Regions from separate parts of the Homo sapiens genome. Here region 2 is linked to region 1. Evidence: fine-mapped expression QTL. Tissue or cell type: monocytes. Region 1 holds a variant in brackets; the other region holds the start of a gene. All regions are shown on one strand. Distances are from middle to middle.

What was found. PIP is the estimated chance that this variant, and not a neighbour inherited with it, causes the effect.
Region 2: GDPD5 starts here. The variant in region 1 is fine-mapped to the expression of GDPD5 in monocytes (BLUEPRINT, PIP 0.90).

The regions. Positions count from the first base shown.
Region 1 is chr11:75,660,672-75,668,773 of GRCh38, reverse strand. It overlaps MAP6 (microtubule associated protein 6), which reads left to right. Exons shown (of 4, transcript NM_033063.2): 1 at 1-1,309. The coding sequence starts at 405. Among named protein-coding and RNA genes, the nearest start is that of MAP6, 4.3 kb to the left of the region's middle. The variant A/G (reference allele first, on the strand shown) is at 4,513.
Region 2 is chr11:75,522,813-75,530,905 of GRCh38, reverse strand. GDPD5 (glycerophosphodiester phosphodiesterase domain containing 5) reads left to right here and starts at 4,965. Exons shown (of 17, transcript NM_030792.8): 1 at 4,965-5,696. RefSeq lists silencers at 4,638-4,697, 4,748-5,267 and enhancers at 5,114-5,614, 7,542-7,591.

The DNA of each region.
Region 1 (8,102 bases):
CGCCCGGCCCCTCCTCTGCGCCATGGCTTAAGCCTGTAGCCACCTCTCCTCACGTCGCCTCGCTCGACCGAGGTCTGTGCGCCGCCGCAGCCGCAGGGAGGGGCGCGTCCCAGACACCCTCGCCGGGGACTCGGGAACGCCGTGCGTCTCACCCTTCGGCGCTCGCAGCAGACTGCGCTCCCAAAGGCGTTTGCGACCGGTAATCGAGGGACTCTACAGACTCTCCTAGGACAGCTCTCCCCGGGTGCTCGCTGAGGGAGGAGGGCGAACTAGCTCCGGCTGATCGGGGGTAGAAAACGGTGGGAACCACATTGGCCGGTCAGGATCGGAGGCTGAAGGAAGATTATAGAGACTTGCTTTAGAACCACAAGAAGAAAGAGGAGGCCGGCTTTTCAGCTAGCATCATGGCGTGGCCGTGCATCACGAGGGCCTGCTGCATCGCCCGCTTCTGGAACCAGTTGGACAAAGCGGACATCGCTGTGCCGCTGGTTTTCACCAAGTACTCGGAGGCCACCGAGCACCCGGGCGCCCCGCCGCAGCCACCGCCGCCGCAGCAGCAGGCGCAGCCGGCGCTCGCGCCCCCCTCGGCGCGCGCGGTTGCCATAGAGACGCAGCCAGCCCAGGGCGAGTTGGATGCAGTTGCCCGGGCAACGGGGCCAGCGCCTGGGCCTACCGGCGAGCGCGAGCCGGCGGCGGGCCCCGGCCGGAGCGGGCCGGGCCCGGGCCTGGGCTCCGGCTCCACCTCCGGCCCCGCGGACTCGGTGATGCGGCAGGATTACCGAGCCTGGAAGGTGCAGCGGCCCGAGCCCAGCTGCCGGCCGCGCAGCGAATACCAGCCCTCCGACGCTCCCTTCGAGCGCGAGACCCAGTACCAGAAGGACTTCCGCGCCTGGCCGCTGCCGCGCCGCGGGGACCACCCGTGGATCCCCAAGCCCGTGCAGATCTCTGCGGCCTCCCAGGCGTCGGCGCCCATTCTCGGGGCGCCCAAGCGCCGGCCGCAGAGCCAGGAGCGCTGGCCAGTGCAGGCCGCCGCTGAGGCCCGGGAGCAGGAGGCGGCCCCCGGCGGAGCGGGTGGCCTGGCGGCCGGAAAGGCGTCCGGGGCGGACGAGCGCGACACGCGCAGGAAGGCCGGGCCTGCCTGGATTGTGCGCCGCGCCGAGGGCCTGGGGCACGAGCAGACGCCGCTGCCCGCGGCCCAGGCCCAGGTCCAGGCCACCGGCCCCGAGGCTGGCAGGGGGCGCGCCGCGGCGGACGCCCTCAACCGGCAAATCCGCGAGGAGGTGGCGAGTGCAGTGAGCAGCTCCTACAGGTGAGACGCGGCCGCTGCTAGCGCGGGGGAGTCACCACGCAGACCCTCCCCGCGGGCTGCCCGGGGCCCAGGATCCCCAGCGCAGGCCTAGCGTGCAGCCTCCCTCCAGTCCCAGGCCACACCCTCTCCCCAGCCGCCTCCCAGGCCACCTCCTGTCGAAGCCTTCTCTTCTGCCCTGTCCCATGCGCAAGCTGTTAGTATATTCCATCTCAGCCTGCCTGGCTCTTTCACTTTACCGCTGTAGCCCTTTTCTCCATCCCTCCCACCTCAGATCCCTGCCTTCCCACAGAGACCCTTTGCAATGTCAGCAGAGGCTGTGCTTCCGTCGTGCCCCCATCCAACTCACCTGCTGCGTTAGCCTGGATGTTGCCCTTTGCAGGGTCCCCATTCTTCCAGAAGAAGAATTCTTTCCAAGTGGCCTCTCGCCCTCCTCCCTAGCCCAGTTCCCTTGGCCCTTCATTCTTTCCTCCCTTTCTCAGTCTCTGGGCAACACCCAAGCACCATACCTTTTTCTAGATTACCCACAGGATCTTTACAAATTACCCCCCACCTTCCACCGCTGGAACTTTGAAGTCATTGTCCTTCCACCTCTCCCTAGCTGTGACATATTGGGCAAGTTTCCTAACCTTTCTGGGCCTCATGTTCTTATCTGTAAGATGTAATTGGTAATAGACATCTCTTAGGATTGTTCACACTTTTATTGATTTAATATTAAACATTTTATTTTTATTTAGTTAATATTAAATATTCAACATATTTTTGAGTGCCTACTATATGCCAGGCAGTGTGCCGGACATTGTGAGGATTAAATGAGATAATCAGGAGAACAGCTCGTGCCTAGCACATAGTGGTAATTAGTACATCTTGGTTCCATTCCTACCTTCCACATGATACCTTATGATCCTACTTCCTAGGTGCCTCCAGCCTTCTCTGCTATTGAGGCATCTTCTTTCTCTCTCCTTTCCCTACATGTTCTCCAGATGTCTCTCATTCTCTTGCCACCAAAAACCCCTTTCTCCAGCACACTCAATTCCTTGCAAATGAATGCTTTCAAGCATGAAAATCTCTCTCTCTCTTTCCTTCTAGAATTTTCCCTCTGCTGCAGCTTCAGCCATTCCAGTCTGCTTTCTTGCCCTTCATCCATCCGGTATATATTTCTGAAGGCTTAGCTTTCAATTCTCCCCTTATGTTTCAACCAACATCAATTAGCTAACAGAACACAGTTGACTCTGGACATGCAACATTGCATTTGGGGTCTCTCGGGGAAGATCTGTATGAAAGTAATTGAGCTAGAGGTGTTCAAAATGCAGCTTATGGGGTCCTTTATCAATGCCACAGCTTTCTGCTGCCTCCTTCCTGCAAGAGGGTGTGGGGGGCGGGGAGGACTAGAGAGTTAGTCCTTTGCCAAGACTCTGTATATAGGTTAGACTAATATCCTTCTCCAGTGAACATTACCAATACTCTCTCATAGGCTGAGGAAAGAATAGCATATCCAGACATCCTTCATGTTAAGAGAAAATCTGTCCCCCAACTCCTACCCCTGCATTTCTCATCTTCCTGAATTCCACCTCCCACTTGGCATCTCTCTCTTGGTTTATTGCTATCACAACAACCACACTGGGAACCCAGGAGTACAGCACTTCCTTTGAGCTCTTGGTCAAACAAGGACATAAATCCTTTTCCTTGAATAGCCATGAGATGGTAGAATGTTCACTATGTTTTTATGCTGCTACCAAGCGGGGAGCAAAAGAAAAGAGGGGAAACAAATAAGCAGGAGACATAAAAAACAAAGGCAGGATGTAGTTTTCTAGTTCTGCTATGGCTTGCTTGCTTCAAGACCCTACTTCATTTCTTGATCTTCCTACCCTGAGAAGCCCACGTCTGGCCCAACATCATAGATTACTGGCTTGGCCTCTTCATCTTCCCACTCTCATTCTAGCACCCTGTGGCAGGTGGAACCTTACTACCCACTAGCAGGAGCTGTCTCTTCTCACCACCATGCAGTCAATGCCAATCAAGAGAGATTCCAGATTCTTAAGCCTCCTTGGGTGATCCTACTCAGTTTATGATTTCAAGTTGGCAGGACTTGCTTTGTTTATGGATGAGTGGCCTGTCAGTCAAGGAATGACCACATCCTTTGAATATAACGCACTCCAGATTTGGGGTTGTACCTTGTTCCATATAGCCTTTTTCCTCAAAACAACAGCTTAGCTGTGCAGTAAGCATGTCGTGCTTCACATGCCATGCTTCACATTACACACATACTGGAAATGACTGGATTTGGTGGGGGAAGGCTATGCCCTCGGAGCTGGTGAGAATGATTATTTTTAGCACCTATCAATTCTATTAACCTGTCAAAAAAATCTTTGAACACCTCAAAAAAATTTTTAAATTTAGGTCTTTTGTAAAATTTAATTATACCTATGGCTTTCGGGCCAGGAGTACTATTTTGCTATATAATCAAAAGGGTTTTGAAATATTAAGGGAATGATTATTGCTAAGAAACATCAATTTCTTCAATGAACAATTTAAGTGCATGACAAATTTGATGTGAAATTTAACGGGTTTTTTTTTTGTTCCAGAATAAAAATTAACAAATAATTGAGAAATTCACTTTGATTGAAAGTAGATATAAAGAAATAAGCTATTCAATACATTAAATACACTGTAAAGAAAAAATGGTTGGCAATTATAAGCTTATCTAGAACATTGATTTTCCTTCCCTATTGTCTCACATTCTTTTCCTTGCTATGTTTCTAGGATATCTTCTGAATTTAAGTAAGTACCATGTCCACTGACATAAGATGGGCCTTATGTTGCCTTAGAAGGCTTAGAAGCCAAGCTGTGCTCCACTTCAATGATAATTTGATTTACAAACCCTTTTCTTCTGCCATTCTACATAAATTATGGTGTATTCACACCATGGTGACTGGTTCGTCTCATGGACTTTACAAATGACACCTGCCACATGACATCAATGTGAACAGTCTGCTTAAACAGAAAGGGACACACAGTCCATCATGTAAAATATACATTCAAAATTCAGAATCATATACATGCTCATTGTTTTACTTTACAATTTACAGTCATAAATAACATTAGATACCCTTTGACATTATGGTTTTGAGAAACCTTCCCTATTCAATAGCTCATCTAATTCCCAATCCATTCATATCAGCCTGAGATTTTTGCATTCAAGTAGT[A/G]TCCAGGATAGCTTTGGGATTATTCACAAACATGAGTTTGATTAATTTTTAATACATTCATTTTACATAGATGATATTGTAAAACTGAGAAGCATGTCTTTATTACCATTTTTAATGTTAAGGATGGGTTTCACTGGGAAGCCATTTGTGACTTTAGACCTGACGTTCTCAATTAGAAAATAGATGAGTCATAAGGAGGGGATTAAAATTCCTCTCCCAGTCAACCCCATTGCCCTGGCCATCAGATAATAGGGGTAGATAGGGTAGCAGCTGCTCCCTATAGAAATGCTAATGAGAAACTTTTCCTAGAAGAAACCAGCTGAGGCACCAGGAGGTAGAATTAATAAACCAGGGTGAAATACTTGAAAAATAAGAGCAGTAACAAGGAAGTTAGAAAGAAAAGGAGCCTTTAATGTCTGCCCTCCAGCCTTGTATGAAGGTTACAGGAAGACCCATCTGACTTAGTTTATGCTGTGCAGAACTGCCCCATTCCCTAACTGCCCATTTCCCTAATTTCCTTTTGGGTCAATCCCAGCAATGCCTCGAGGCCAATCTTGGATACTGAGTCTACAGCGATGCCTTCCTAGAGCCAGCCATTCTGAATCAATTGTTCTTCTATTCCCTTTTTACTTTCTGAACCCTTATCATTGTCTGCTTGATTGTAAAATACTCTTGTCCATGTCTGTCTCCCCCACCACGTCATGAACACCTGAAGAGAAGGCTGTATTTTGTTCACTCTGTACCTCTCACAGCCTAGGTGCCATATAGATTTGTTGAATCTAATGGACTTTTTAGGGCTTGTTGAAAATTTTATTTTTCTACATATTGATAGAGTCAATTTCATTTAGTTGAATTTTTTTCAGAAAATGATCACCAAGCCCCTGCCATGTACCAGACAAGGAGCTGGGAATACCAAATAAATGAGTCATAATTTTAATGTAAGAAAATTGTGTCTTCCTCAATCAAGTTAAAGTCCAAATCCTGGTCAAGCGCGGTGGCTCACGCCTGTAATCCCAGCACATCAGGAGGCTGAGGCGGGCAGATCACGAGGTCAGGAGTTTGAGACAAGCCTGACCAACATGGTGAAACCCCGTTTCTAAAAATACAAAAAATTGTACTAAAAATACAAAAAATTAGCCGGGCGTGGTGGGGTGCGCCTGTAATCCCAGCTACTCAGGAGGCTGAGGCAGGAGAATTTCTTGAACCTGGGAGGCGGAGGTTGCAGTGAGCCAAGATCATGCCACTGTCCTCCAGCCTGGGTGACAGAGTGAGAGTCCATCTCAAAAAAAAAAAAAAAAAGTACAAATCCTACCAGGTTAGCACTAGAAGTAAATGTTCAAACGGAGAAGGGCAGCAAACTTTACAGACCTGACTCTACATGGACCTTCACCTAGGGCAGCAGTCCTCAACCTTGGCTACACATTGGAATCAGTGGAGAACTTTCAAAAGACTGATGCATAGGTGCCTTGCCTAGAAAATCTGATTTCATTGGTCTGGGGTGTAGCCTGGGCAACCAAGTTTTTAAAAACTACTTCAAGTGATTCTAATGTGCAACTCACGTTATGATCTACTTTTATAAGGCATCATTCTCAAAATTTAGTACACAAAAGAATCACCTGGAGAGCTTTCTGAAATGCAGATTCCTGGGCCACATCCTCATACATTCTAATTCAATGGGCTTAAAATGGAGCCTAAGTATCTAATTTTTAGCAAGCACTCTAGATAATTTTAATGCAGATGAATGCAAGCTTTACTTGGGAAAAAATTACTTGGTGAGGTTTGCCATCTTTAAGCTATTGAGTTTTCCCACATGCAAACATGGCAAAGGTTGCCATTTATTTAAGTCTTTTATGTTCTTCACTTATATTTTGTAATTTTCTCCACAAAATCACATACACATATATACTCATATATATACACATATATACAGTTTTAAAGTTTTATTTCTGTATTTAAATTGTTAATAATCTAACTAGATTTTATCTTTATGAATGGAGTGAGGTAAGTATTGAATTTTTCCGTATATGGAAAGTCATTTATCCTTACACTGTTTTCTAAAGCTTTGCTTTTCCCCACTAACTTATGATATCTCCTCTATCACATAAGGGTCACATATCTTTAGATATTATATCTGGGTTCTCTGTTCTATTCCATCAGTCTGAGCTAATACTATATTATCTTATTTTATTTTATTCTGAGCTAGCTTTTAATTATTGTTCCTATCATGAAGAGTTCATTACCTTTTCTAATTTATTATTGCCCATATGCATTAAGTTTTGTATGTTAATCTTGTATTCAGGAAACTTATCACACTCTCTAATTAGTTTTGTTTGTAGACTTTCCTGGATTGTCTGTGGAGATAATGTATGTTTTTAGCAAATAACAATTTATTATCTTCCTTTCCAAGATTTATATATCTTGTTTTTTTGTGTGTGTTGCTCTGTTGGTTAGGACATCTGGTATGGTTTCAAATAGTAGGTGATAACAAACATCCTTGCCTTGGGATGTGGGAAAGTTTCTAAAGTTTTATCATTAAGTATGAGGTTTGCTTTATGTTTTTATAAGATAAGGTTAAGAAATTTCTATTTATCTTAGTTTGCTAGGGGTTTCTAAAAATTAGTTTGGCTGTTGAATCTTATTGAATGCTTTTTCTCTTATTGAAGGCTCAGCATCAGCTGAGATGATCTGTGATTTTTCTTTTTTAATCTGTTAATAGATTTTTTTTCTCATATTGAACCATCTTTGCATTTCTGGGATAAATCTTGTTTAGATAAAAATATATTTTATTATGCTGAATTTGGTTTGCTATTTTTTATCTGAAATGCTTGCGTATATATTCATAAGTAAGATTGGCCTATAATTTTTCCTTTTTTATATTAGTCTTATGTACTGTTGGAATCAAGGTTATACCTATAAAATTAAATGGGTAGATTCCCCTCCTTTTTAGTTATTTGAAAAAGTTTATATAAGAAGGGCTCCTCCTCAAATATCTGATAAAATTCTCCTGTAAAACTTGCTGGACCTGTTGTCTTTTTCATGGATTTTTTTTAAACTGTCAATTTGATGTCTTTAATACTGATTCACTTATTCAGGTGTTATATTTCTTCTTGAGCCAGTGTTGATAATTTATTTTTTTCTGGAAAAATGTACATTTCTTCTAATTTTATAATTTATTGACATAAAATTGATCATAGCATTATCTTGTGGATTTAAAAATAATCTCTACTTACCTGTAGTTATGTCTCCTTTTTCATACCTAATATTTATTTGTACCTTCTCGCTTTTTTTTTTCAGGATTAGTCTTGTTCAGATTTGTTTTGTTTTTTAGTCTTTCCAAAGAATAAATTTTTTATTTTGTTGAGCATCTCTTTTTTCAGTAAATTTTACTCTTATTTTTATTATTCGCTTTCTTTTTGTGCTCTGAGAGGTAGGCATAGGTCAGCTTATCAACAGCCTTGTATTCCTGGCTAAGAAGTTTGGATTTGCTTCTATAGACAATAATGAGTCACTGAAAAAATCTAAGCAGAGGGACAACATAGTTTGATTCAAATTTTATAAAGTTCCCACTGGCTGGCTGACCTGGGAAGATT
Region 2 (8,093 bases), 140 kb after region 1:
TCCCTGTGAAACCCTCCCATGGCTCCCCTCCACCCTCAGCACAGAGGCCAACTCTTGACTAAGACCTTGTGTGGCACGTCCCTCTGCCTGGCTCTCCAGCCACAGTCTCTCTTGACCTTTCGGCCTTGGTACTACAGAATTGATTTTGGTCTCCCAGATATACACCATGTACCTCAGGCCTCACTGACTGAACATTTGATCTTTTCATCCTTACCACCTTTGAAGTAGCCACTATTTTCTTTTTCTTTTTTTTCCCAACTGAGCTAACCGGCCTGAAGGAGCTACTATTTTCATCTCCCTTTTACCCACAGGAATCTCAGGCACAGAGAGGGAAGGTGACTGGGCCAGGATGTGCACCTGGCTCCCAAGCCCACAGCATCACAGCCCACAGTGCCCTACATCCAACCAGCTCTCCAGGCCAGGCAAGTGCCTCCAGCCCCTCTCCACTCCCCATTCCACATACACACTCTTACCAAATCCACCATGCGTTAAGCCAGGCTACAGCTCAGATGCTCACCCTGCACATGTGTCCCGGATCCCCTCGGGACCCCTACTTGACCTCCTTTGGCAATAAACTGGAACATAAAGTTTCCCCCAGGTGTACTGGGGTAGGTGTGGCCCCAGCTCCTACAGCCCTGTTATACATCAGCTGAGGTTAGTTGAGGCCACAGGGCCACTGAGGGCAGTGGAAGACCAGAGAGCAGGAGGGGCAGGCAGGTGGGGGTCCCAGGGATGCCCTCTGGATGTGCGTGAGTGGGCAGAGCAGGCTGGGTCCAAGCCAAGCTTCCCACTCCCCTTCACACTCCCTCCTTGCTAATGCTCCAATGTCCTCCAGATAAATTCCAAACATGAACCCCACCTATCATGGCCTCTCCGGCTCCCCCTCATTTACCTAACACTCACTAGGAACTTACGTGTGTCATCAACACTACCCTAGGTGCCTTACAAAAATTAACTCACTTAATCCTTATAAATATCCTACAAAGTAAGTACTGGGATTATCCCCACTCTACAGATAAGGAAACTGAGGCACTGAGTAACAACAGAGCTAGCACTTGGTAGTGTCAGGATTCGAACCTAGGCCATGTGGCTCCAGAGTCTGTGCTCTAACTGCTCTGTTGTGCAACCCACTTCTCCCTCCGTCATTTCTGTTGCCCTAAATACACTAACTTCTCACCCTCCACCTGCCCATTCCCACTTTCATGCCTTTGCGCTCAATGTTCCGTCTGCCCAGAAGACGCTTCCCTCCTTATCTTGATAAGTTCTGCTTCTTAAATACCCAAGTGTCACCCTCCCTGTGAAGCTGCCCTTGACCCAGCTTGCCCTCCTCCAGCTGAATCAGGCAGCCTCCTCTGTTCAGAAAGCACTTGGTACACATTTCCATGCAGACAGCTCTGGGACTGGGGGCTCCTCGATGATGAGGGCAGGTTCTCATCTGATTGTCCCATCCCTGGATACCCAATGTTTGGTATAGGACTTGGTCCAACTCAGGAAACATTGGTGAATGAGGGACTCGGGCAGCGAGAAATCAGACTCCACCCCTTGCCCTCCAAAAGCTCATAATCTGGTGGGAAAATTGACCCATCAACAGCAGCCCAGATCCAAAGGCATCAGAAGAGGCAAAGGGCCTTCGGTGCCACAGGCTCCAAAGGAAGAGGCTGTGCTTGTCACTGGGAGAAGTGGGCAGGGTTCTCAGAGGCATCAGCTTGTGAGAAGGGCCTTGAAGGATGGAGAAAATCCACTAGGCAAGCGGGACACATGCAGGCAGGAGGGACAGGGAAAGGACTCCAGGCTGGCAGGGACGGAGGCAGAGGGGTAGGAAGGCATGAAGCATTTTGAGGGCTCAATGAGCTCAGTGGAGCCCAATCACCCCACCAGACAGGGAGCTGCAGGAGGGCAGAGCGTCCCTGCCAACGCCTCACACAGGACCTGCATATATGGACGCAGTGGAAGGATTTGTTGGAAGTAGATCTCCAGGGGTGTGGAGCCTCATACAATTCAGTGGCCCTGTTTAAGAAAAACTGCAAAATACTAATATAAATGTAGACGTGAAAGTGAATGTCTATCTGCCATAAGAATGGGAGGAGCTGCGTTTAACAGCCCTGGGGCCCGAAGCTGAAGCTGCTGCCTCCGGTGAGAAGAATGTAAGGAAGGTAGAAGGTTCTTGGGAGAAGTAGGGCATCAGGCAGAAAAGGCTAATGTTTCCGTGTAGCCTCACCCTCGACCACCGCCCAGACCAGCCACCATGACCACCTCTGTCATGCTTCATGGAACTCCTTGGCCACCAAAAGGCCAGATTCCCCAGCTCACAAGACTCCCTCCCCTTTGGAAGAGTGGCCAGAGGGCAAATGTGGGTGTCTTGAGACCTGTTTGCTAGTCACCTCCTGACGACCTTGGGCATGCCTCCCCCTCACACACCCCCAGCGCCTCAGGGGTCATGGAGGGTCTGTTCTGAAAATCTCCTTTTATTCTGACATCCTGCTCATCTGACCCAGCTAAGGAGGCTCTCGCAGCAGGGGCAGCCAGAGAACTCTCTGAGAGCCTCATTCATCTCCCAGTGCCGAGATCTCACAAGGGCAGGCCATGTACCAGGCTGGATGGTGGCGGGTGGGAGGGAAACCAGACATGGAAATCAATCATTACAGAACCTTCAAGCTGAGGGAGCCCAGACCAAAGGCAGGCAGCCTGGGGGAGTTCAGGAAGGCTTCTCGGAGGTGGTGATAAATCTTGGTGGAGATAAATCTTGATAAATCTCATGAGAGATGGGTCATTTATTCAACAATTGTTTACTTGGCACCTACTATGTGCCAGGCTCCGTGCTAGGCTCTGGGGATACAGCAGTGAAGAGAACAGATGAGCATTTGGCCTAGAGGTTCTGCCCTTCAGCCCAGCAGAGAAATGAGAATTAACTCCAGAGAGAAGGGGAACAGCAAAGCAACACATGGAGGAGACAACTGCATGGAGACAGAATGCATCCTGCTTGCTGATGGAGCTGAGAGAAGTTGGCGCAAGTAGAGAGGGAAGTAAGCAATGGGGAGATGAGGCTGGTGGAGTCAGCAGGCAGAGAGCAATAACAAAGGGGCTGGAACGCCAGGCTAGGGATGTAGGGCTTGGTCATGCTGGCAACCGGGAGCCAGAGAGGGCTCTGGACAGAGGGAAGGGCCACAAGGTTTCTTAGCGTCAAGTTCAACAAGTAAAGGCAAAACTGCCTTCTCCCAGCCCTCAGGCTCCAGAGACCAGTCCCAACTTCCTGGGCCCAACTTGCCTACTCCCAACCCCTGGGCCTGAAGAAGACAGGGCACCCTCAAGTCCGCAGCCTGAACTTCAGCCTCCAGCTCACCCTCTTCTTTGTTCTTCCAACCAGTCTCTCAGCCATAGTCTGATGCCATTTCTTTTGCAGGGAATGCCCATGCTTCACCCTCTGAAGCCTGCTGCCTGCCCAGTCCCTCACCTGGTTCCCTGCCAAGTAGCACCTTTATTCTTCTTTTATAGATGAGGAAACAGAGGCTCAGAGAGGGAGAGTAACCTGTTAAAGCCACACAGCTTTACCCTAGAATTTGATAATGATGGGTGGATAGAACTCTGTGCCAGCTGTGTGGTCTCGGGAACGTCACTTAGCCTCTCTGTGCTGAGTCCTCATCTGTGAAATGGGGTACCTATCACAACATAAGGTTGGTGTGAGGTTTACAAAGAGACTGTACTGTGCCACCAACATCCCTTAGCTCCCCAGGCCAGTTAGCGGCTTTCACATGGTCCCTACCCCACTCCCCCGCGGCACACATTCAACTTTCATTCATACATCAGTTCCCTCCAACACCTTCTCTGCGCCTGGTCCTGTGCACACACTGAAGACGGCTCCTTGGCCAAGCACAGGGCTCACACCTATAATCTCAGCACTTTGGGAGGTCGAGGCAGGAGGATCGCCGGAACCCAGGAGATCGAGACCAGCCTGGAAAACATAGGGAGACCCTGTCTCTACAAAAAATTTAAAAATTAGCCAGATGTGGTGGTGCACGCCTGTAGTCACAGCTACTCCGGAGGCACAGGTGGGAGGATCTCTTTAGCCTGGAAGTTCGAGGCTGCAGTGAGCCGTGATAGTGCCACTGCACTCCAGCCTGGGCCACAGAGCGGGACCCTGTCTCAAAATAAAATGAAATAGAAAATAAAGACGGCTCCTGCACCCAACGCGCGGGGTGGGAAGGGGCGGGAGCGGACTGCAGATGCATCACGATTCGAAGTGTGTGTCCTCACACAACTCTGCTCTTGAGTTCGTATTTTTAAAATTGACCACGACGCTCCTCCTCGGGGATGGGCGCAGGGAAGGGAGGCTTGTGGAAGACAAATTCGCTCATTTCCAAAAACTTATTTTTCACCGTTTCCTGAAATCTGAACACTTCCCAGCCCAACTCTCACCTCTGAGCGCCGAGCACTAGAAGCTAGGGAGAAGCAAGGTGTCGGTGGCATCCCACCACTCAGGAGGGCTCGCTCCAGCGTCCCTGGGACCCCTGACCCCGGATATCCTCCACCTTGCCTCGCCCCGGCTTCTTTTCCTACACTGGCCCCTGCTCCTTCCCCGTGACCCCCGCAATCCCCGCACAGCAGTCCCCATGCCCCCGTCCCAGGCAAGCCAGCCCTCTCGCCTCTCCCTCCTTCCGGGTCCCGAGGCCAACCCCCTCCCCGATTCGGCCCGTTCCGAACCCCCAGCCCCGCCATTGTCCTCTTGCAGCCGCACCTCTCCATTGTCCGCCCCGCCCTCTCCGAGGTAGAATCCGCTTTCCGCAGGGCGCCGCTCCGCTCCCACCCTCGGATTGGCTCCTGCGGCCCCACGCGCGAGGCCCGGGAAGGGGAGAGGGCGCGCACCCCGCCCCTGCCCGCAGCCGGCCGGGGGCGGGGTCTCTGCTGACTCCGCCCCGTCCGGGCGGGGCCGCGCAGGCTGGCGCTGGGGCGCTGGGCGGCGCTGTTTCGGCTGAGCTCGGGCTGCGGCTCCGGTGGGGGTGGGTGGCGGGGATGACAGCGGAGGTGGCAGCGGCGCGGCGCTGAGCGAGCGGCGAGGGAGCAGGGGAAGAGGAGGAAGTGGAGCCGCGGCCGGGAGCTCGGGAGTCGGCCGCCGCGCCGAGGTTCGCCCCGTTTTGCAGAGAGAGCCGAGTCGGGACCTGGAAAGACTTCCCCGCGGGGCTCCGGCCGCCGCGCCTCCCCGCCGGCGCCTGCCCTGCCCTGCCCGTCCCAGCCCCGCGGTTCGGGGCGTGCGGCCGGGACGCGCGGAGCCCCGGCCCTGACCCGCTGCGCCGGGACGGGACGCTCCTAACGCCGCCGTACCGGTCCGTGGTTGCAGGGTCGCTCCGCGCCTTTCCGTCAGTGAGGGTCGGAACCCCAGCTCCAGGGCTAGCGCAGTGTGGCCCCAGGCCCTCGCCTCCGGTGCACGGGACCCCGGACCCCCCCAGCCTCTGGCTTCACGAGACCCCAACCTTCAGTTGGAACAGCTTGGAACAGCGCGAGCGCCCGGGAAGCCCTGGCCGGGTCGTGCGCTCGGTGAGGGGTCCTAGGCGGGCAGGACAGTCGGACCGAACCGCCGGGCTGGTGCCGCGAGCCCAGGCTGTCACCTTCGTCCCGCCTCAGGTGAGGGGTTCAGCGCCTGCCCCGAAGATAACACAGGGGTCCCCTTCTGTCCCGGCGGCCTGCGAGAGCCAAGGCTGCAGGTGAGAGCCCCGGATGCGCGGCAGGAGCGGTCCCCGACCCCATCGCGGCAGCGCGGGGGCCAGCGGAGGGAGTGTCAGGGGAAACAAGCAGAGGCTGGAACTGGCTGGGAGGGGGCGCGGGAAGGGGAGGGGAAAGAAAGAAAACGGGTACTTATTGAGCGCCCATTGTGTGCGGGTTCGCGCCCTGCCCCGCCCCGCCCCGCCTAAGCCTCACTGCTACTCCTGAAATAGGTGTTGTGTATTATTATCGGCGCTTGCAGATGGAGAAACTGAGGCTTAACGGGGCTGAGTGACCTCCTTTCACTGCGGGGAGGAGACTGGGGAAGCGGGAGAGGATAGAGGGGGAAGAGGCAGAGCACTTGAGCGCTGATGCTAAAGCTGAGGAAGTGGCTTCTTCTTGCCTCCCGCTCCCTGGCCATGTCACCCGCGAGGAAAGGTGACTCAGAGTTGAGGGTAGAGGTGGGAAGCTTCCCAGTTCCAAAGCTTCTCTCCCTGTGGGCCCAGGATGTGAGAGCAGCAGCTCCTGGCCCTTGTGTGTCAGACTCCAGGGTCTCTAAGACACTCTGGAGGTCCTGAGACGTGCTTATCTGTTGGTGAATTCACTGCAGAGATCCCCAAGTAAGGGTCTGTCAGAGCTGGAGATGTAGCCCCTCTGGGGTGGCTGGAGATGTGGCTCACGTGACTCACCTCCCTCACATTACTAATGGGGACACTGAGGCCCACCCGAAGGGAGTGCCAGTTGTCCGATCCTAAAGCCAGTGAGTCCTTGAGCCACAAGTAGACTTGAGAAAACCTTCCTGAGCATCCTTCAAGGTATGCACACTCCTCCCCAGTTAGGATCTTCTGGATAGGTGGCTGGGGCTTTCCCTATCGCTGATGTGAGATCTGGGCGACCATGTATGAGGCTGTGGTGAGAATTAGTGTGGTTGGTTGCTGGGGCCCCGAGGAATGCCTGCAACCGCATTGCCTTTGGCCCAAATGGAAGGTCCAACCTCATTTTCTTCTGGGCAGGGGAACCTGCAGGATACCTCTGCCCAGGAAGGAAGGGACCTGCTCAAGGTCTCAAGGCTGGGGGCTCCCAGGGCTGGGGCACAGTCCCAGGTGTCTTTATTCCCAGGCAGGGGATGCTTCTGCTGCCCCCAAGGCATGTAGGGAGAGGGGTGTTGTGAAAGAGCCCTTGGCATGGACTCTGTGGGCTCTTATTCTGTGTGGGGACGGGGAGGGGATATGGCCTTGGTCTGGGCCCTGTGGCCTTGGCTAGGCCTAGTTAACCCTAGAGATGCCCAACTCCCTGGAGTCAAGGGGAAACCACCTTGGAAAGCCCCTGGAAGGTGGAGGAGCGTGGTGAGAGGTCTGTGGAAGTCTGAAGCTCAATCCCTGGGGGTGGAAGGGTTAGGGGATCCCAAAAGACAAGGTGACTGAGGGGCTTGGGATTCCCTCTACCCCAGACCTCTGTCTGGGGCTTCAAATCCTCGCAATAATCTCTATGTCTAAACAAAGCTCTTTGATGAAATAATTTCACACCTGTGATCTCCTTTCATGACGTGGAGAGAGCCTGGAACCTAGAGTGAAGCAGAGGAGGGTTGCAGAGTCACTTGTGACCTCTTGATGCATCCATGGTTCCAAGTGCCACTTTAAAATAGGTTATGGCAGGCTGTGTGTTACCTGCTCAGTTAGTGGGGCCATCACATCTGGCTGTCAAGTGCTAAGGGGCATGTTGTACTTGCCAAGACTGGGGAGGTTATTAATGGCCCAGTCTCGTGTGGGCAACTGAAGCTCAGAGAGGTAAAACCACTTCCCCAGGGCCTTTGAGTTTGCTTGTAGAACTGTTTGAGTGCCAGCTGCATACCAGGTGCCCTGGAAGTTACCCAGACGGGCTAAGCGGCAGCCTCGAGCCACAGTAACTGGTGAATCCCAGATAGTGGTAAATCAGACAGACCAGGTGGGCGTGAGTCTACTGTGCCTCCCACTAGCTGAGTGGCACTGAGCAAATCACTTCATCCCTCTGAGCCTATAAAATTAGAATACCTCCTTTAGCAGGTTGTTGCGAGGATTAAATGAGCTACAAAGATGCAGTGCCTGGCCAAATATCCGTTTCCATCCCTATGAAGAAAAGGAAGCTTGAAGTTTGACCAGGAAGTCTGGGGAAATTCTCAGACTTGTCTTCGATTAGAACGCAGGATATGGTTGCAGGGCAGGCTCAGAGACCTGAATTTGCTCAGCTCAGGCTGCTGTGTGGGTCACACTCCCCTAGTCTCATAGCCTCTAGAATCAGTCTGCTTGGGGACACCGGCAAGGGGCTCTGGATTCTTACCCCCTCCCTTGGCTTCCTGCTGGCAGGGCTGTGGTGCCTGGAGCTGGTGTCCATTCCCTCGGGCCCATTGTCTGACCTCCCTA